Regions from separate parts of the Homo sapiens genome. Here region 2 is linked to region 1. The links come from fine-mapping of genetic effects on gene expression. Tissue or cell type: whole blood. Region 1 holds a variant in brackets; the other region holds the start of a gene. All regions are shown on one strand. Distances are between the middles of the regions.

Region 1 (2,762 bases):
TCATGCTGCTATAAAGACACATGCACACATATGTTTATTGCAGCACTATTCACAATAGTAAAGACTTGGAACCAAACCAAATGTCTGTCAATGATAGACTGGATGAAGAAAATGTGGCACATATACGCCATGGAATATTATGCAGCCATAAAAAGGATGAGATCACGTCCTTTGTAGGGACATGGATGAAGCTGGAAACCATCATTCTGAGCAAACTATTTCAAGGTTCTCACTTATAGGTGGGAATTGAACAATGAGAACACTTGGACACAGGGTGGGGAACATCACACACTGGGGCCTGTCATGGGGTGGGGGGAGGGAAGAGGGATAGCATTAGGAGATACACCTAATGTAAATGATGAGTTAATGGGTGCAGCACACCAACATGGTACATGTATACATATGCAACAAACCTGCACATTGTGCACATGTACCCTAGAACTTAAAGTATAATTAAAAAAAAAAGAAATTAGTCTTACAGGAGTCATGGACCACATAGAAATCCAGAGAGGTGATAGGGAGACAGAGTTACTACAGCCTTTGGTCTCTTAGTGACTAGAAGGAGCTGAGCTAATTTCTACATGGAATAATACCACAGCCAAGAAGATCTTAGCTTGTAAAACCACATTCCCTATAAGTAACAAGCATAATAAGCAAAAAGGCACCATCTAAATGTAGAATCAAAAAGAACCATGTAAACACACTGAGATAGTATCCTAGGTGTTTCTGCCATAGTCAATAGTTATGTAAACCAGAATCCCAAATCTACCAAAGGAATTACAGGATTCTGTTTGTTGGATGGTATAAGATAAGGGGGTATTCTCATAACAAGGAGGCACCGGGATGGCTCAGAGAGAATGGAATTAAATGAACAGAAATGTAGACAATAGCTCAGAAGTTAGTTTTCTTCCTTAACATCACTATACTACAAATTTCTTATTGCCTCTACTTTTGTAACAAAACATATCCATTCTTTAGGACAGTGATTTTTGGACTCTCTTTTTAAAGTAAGTAAACACTTTCTTTGAAGATATTTTTAAAGATAACTCATGTGAAATCCTACTTTGTAAAATTAGTAAAAGTGGATCTTTTCTGGTTGAAGTTGATTCTCATAGCAAAGGGCTCTGCCTCTTTGACCATCCTCCTTTCTCCCCATCCATCTGGCTGCCTCCTGCATTCCTCCAAATCCAAGCCCCTTTTAAAACTTTTTGAATCAGAGAACACTGTTTGAAGGTGCTTCTTTAATTAACGTCTTCAGAATTGTTTTTGTATATTGGTTATTCAGACATTTGAGAATTTCTACTTCCAACCTGAAAGTATGTATGCAGAAATGAATGTTATGATGAAGCAACTGCCTAAGAAGTTTAATTATCGGCTGTGATTCTGACTTGTTGATTATTATACTTAAAACATAAAGTGATTTCTGGCTCTGACTTAGCTTCTTTAATCAGATGGTCACCCACACTACCTTGCCCTGAGT[G/A]TACTTCAAGGCTGCAAGTCATTTTCTTGTTTGTTTTGTTGATGTTCTGTTTTCCATATTAAAAATATTGTCTCACAGATCTGGAACCAAGCATAACTTTGATAAAATAAAACAAAATGTAAAATTAAAAAAAAAAAAGAGCTGTAACACTCACTGCGAAGGTCTGTGGCTTCACTCCTGAAGTCGGTGAGACCACGAACCCACCAGGAGGAACAAAAAACTCCGGACGCGCCACCTTTAAGAGCTGTAACACTCACTGCGAAGGTCTGCGGCTTCACTCCTGAAGTCAGCAAGATCACGAACCCACCGGAAGGGAGAAACTCTGGACACATCTGAACATCTGAAGGAACAAACTCCGGACACACCATCTTTAAGAACTGTAACACTCACTGCGAGTGTCCGTGGCTTCATTCTTGAAGTCAGCAAGACCAAGAACCCACCGGAAGGAACCAATTCCAGACAGAACATCCCAGTTTTAACATTGAATGTAAGTGGCCTAAATGCTCCACTTAAAAGATACAGAGTGGCAGGATTGATTTAAAAACCACCCATCAAATATCTGCTGTCTTCAAGAGACACAAATAACACATAAGTGTTCCCAGATGAATGAGGTCCGGCTGCTTGCACTTAGGGTCCAATAACAAGATGCAGACAGACTGGGAAAGAAGGGAGTTTATTTCTGTAAATGGTTACAGGGAGAAGGTTGGAGCAACTCACCAGACCAACTCAAAGTTACAAATTTTTCCCCAGTGCTTATATATATTTTACACTCTATGACTACATGTGGGAGTGCAGCTACAAGCCAGAGTGTTTCATTCAATCTATATCTAATCTTTAACTAGAGTTTGGGGTCTGGAAAACTTTCTCTAGAGCCTTGGAAAGTTTCTTAATCTTAAGTGGGCCCTGGTATGAGGTATATGTGTTAGAATGCTTTTATTATTTGATCAGACTTTAGGGTCTGAGAAAACCCAGACAAGGTCTTAATGGGTTTGTTTTTGCATTCTAGTCCTCATACTCGATGACATGGTTTGGCTCCATGTCCCTACCCAAATGTCATGTCGAATTGTAATTCCCAGTGTTGGAGGAGGGAGCTGGTGGGAGGTGATTGGATCTTGGGGGTGGATAACCCCCTTGCTGCTCTCATGATAGTGAGTGAGTTCTCATGAGATCTGGTTGTTTGAAAGTGTGTAGCCCTTCCGCCTTCACTCTCTCTCTCCTGCTTTGCCATGGTAGGACACGCTTGCTTGCCCTTCACCTTCTGCCGTGATTGTAAGTTTCCTGA
Region 2 (2,762 bases), 65 kb before region 1:
AACCATTGATTGAGCACCTACTATATTCCCTGAAAGAGAACATAAACATGAATTGAAGAAGGTTCTTGCTGTCTCATGGCTCCCAAGCTAGAAGAGGGCTGACTTGTAAATGCCTCACAGCAGGGTTCATGTTATATGGAGAAGTGACGAAGGTGCCAGAAGACTCAAGCTAGGGGACAGCCATTAGCTGCTGGAGGCAGCTAAGGTGGGTTCCCAGAGAAGCCATTCTCCGTTACTGAGATGGGGGCTGCAGTGACCTTGACCACAGCTCTTCCATTCATGGACTGCCCCAGCTCTGTGGTCTCTCTGCTAACCAGCCAGACTCTGGGAGTGGCCTATGCCGTCAGCCTCAGGGCCATTTAAACCAACTGGTCATTGGCAGTGATTGTGCGAAAGAGTGGCTGGCGGCAAAGGAGGGTTTGTGTTCCATTCAAATACCCTCAAAAAGCCTGAAAAATAAGTAGAGATTGAGGCCAGGCCTTGGAGTTGTGGAAGGTGGAGAACACTGGGAAGCCAACCTCCAAAGAAGACCAGGTTGGAGGCAAAGGAGGAAGGGGAGCTCTCGTTGGCAAACCAACAGGGAAGCCAAGGATATCCCAGTAACTGCTCTCACATCCTTGATGAGAATGCCTTGAATCCGAGCTAGGCCACCTCAAAGAAGCCTGCAAAATAAGTAGAGATTGAGTGCCTGCTGTTCAAACACAACTCAAGCGCAGTCCTCCTCCTCTTTCCCACTGGATTGCCCCCAAGTCCCTCCTATGGGGGACTCCTTCTGAAGTCTCTGCTGTAAGTCAAATCCTTCGCCCTTTATACTTGGTCAGGAAGTTGCAAGCTTCCACAGGTGATATACTAGGGAATTTAGGAATAAACAAATGGAAATAAATTCAAGAAAAGGAAAATAATAAAAATGATCATCCATAGAGTGGAGAATTCAGATAATGGACCCTCAACCCCAGCTTCACACCTGGGACCCCCACTTGGTCATATGGACCCTGGCAGTCTCTAATCACAAGTCTGTGATCCCTTGACTTAAACTGTTCTTCCCCAAATGTAGACATGGGTGGGGCTCAGAAGGGAGGTGTCATCTGATGTGGTTTCCTTATTTCCGTTTATTCATCAAGTGCCCTCTAGCTGTTAAGTCACTCTGATCTCTGACTGCAGCTCCTACTGTTGGACACACCTGGCCGGTGCTTCAGGTAGGAAGCCACCTCTGTTTGCTAGGACTTTCTGTGGGGTAGGGCTGCTTGGCTTGACTTTATTTTGGAAAATGTATTCATTTCTGTGGGAGCTGAGGATTTCTGCTGCCCGCTTCCTCTCTTGTGACCACCACTCATACATGGAGTTAGCAGGTGAAGAGGACAGCCTCCTCATCCCCTCTTTTTATACCTTGCCCTTTTGTGGGAAGAGGCTGACCATTCCCCAATTTGATGTTTATTGCTTCACCTTAAGACTTTGTCTTCAGTGAAAATGCAAATACTGGTAGGGAGGGAACACACTAAAATGTGTGGATCTGAGTGGACTCATCATACACCCTCAGGCCTGGCAGCAAATGAGAGGTGGATGATTCTGTCTTCCTCGATTTGCAGATGAGAAGACTGAAATCTATAGGGGTACGAGACCCCACTCAAGGTCATGAGACTTATTTATTTATTTATTTATTTATTTTGAGATGGAGTCTCACTCTGTCGCCTAGGCTGTAGTACTGTGGCACGATCTCGGCTCACTGCAACCTCCATTTCCCGGGTTCAAGTGATTCTCCTGCCTCAGCCTCCTGAGTAGTTGGGATTACAGGTGCACGCCACCACACCCAGCTAATTTTTTTGTATTTTTAGTAGAGACGGGGTTTCATCATTTTGGTCAGGCTGGTCTCGAACTCCTGACTTCATGATCTGCCTGCCTTGGCCTCCCAAAGGGCTGGGATTACACACGAAACTTATTAATGGTAGAATCAGGATGGAATGAAGACTGGATGCTAGGTGTCTTTACAACCAACCTCGGTGACTTTCCAAAGGCTTTCAGACTTCTCTGGAGAGTCCTGGAGCTTTGAGGGGCTCTTTAGGGGCCATCTGGGTTCGGAGATTAGCACACTCTGCCCCACAGTGGCTCAGCTTTTATCTGCTTCACATACTGGGCTTCTGGGAAGATCTTATTTCAGTAAACTATTTCACAATAGGAAATATATTTGAAAACTCTTGAATGATTCTGTGGATTTTTTCAGGGGTGGAGGGTTTCAGGGACCAAGATGGAGACTTTATCTTCTCAAATACTTAAAACTCCTTTAGACAGAGGAACAAAATATGTGCTCCTCATTTAAAGAAGGCTTAAAATATACAGTTTAATGCAATGTGTTGTTATCACTTCCTTCCCCCAGTAGATTTTAAGGAGGGTAAACAAGAATCAGGGAGAACATAGGAATAGAAATAGTAGAAGGGGACACCTGGGAACAGGTTTGCCTTCTTGCATTTTGCTTAATGCTGGCCCTTCCCTGAATGTCTAAGACCAACCTGGTCCCCACATCCAAATGCACAGACACAGCTGAGGATGGAGAAGGCTAAAGAGGGACAGAGGTAGAGACATAGGCTGAGAGGAGGCAGTTGTAGGTTGAGCTAGGGCTAAGGTGTTTTCCCCATATTCCATCTTACCCCACACTCAGGCCAGGCCTTAGAGTTGTGGAAGGTGGAGAACACTGGGAAGCCAACCTCCGAAGAAGACCAGGTTGGAGTCAAAGGAGGAAGGAGAGCTCTCATTGCCAAACCAACAGG

What was found. PIP is the estimated chance that this variant, and not a neighbour inherited with it, causes the effect.
Region 2: CXCR1 starts here. The variant in region 1 is fine-mapped to the expression of CXCR1 in whole blood (INTERVAL, PIP above 0.99).

What each region holds. Positions count from the first base shown.
Region 1 is chr2:218,100,311-218,103,072 of GRCh38, reverse strand. No RefSeq gene overlaps it. Among named protein-coding and RNA genes, the nearest start is that of CXCR2, 24 kb to the left of the region's middle. The variant G/A (reference allele first, on the strand shown) is at 1,481.
Region 2 is chr2:218,165,342-218,168,103 of GRCh38, reverse strand. CXCR1 (C-X-C motif chemokine receptor 1) reads left to right here and starts at 1,142. Exons shown (of 2, transcript NM_000634.3): 1 at 1,142-1,196.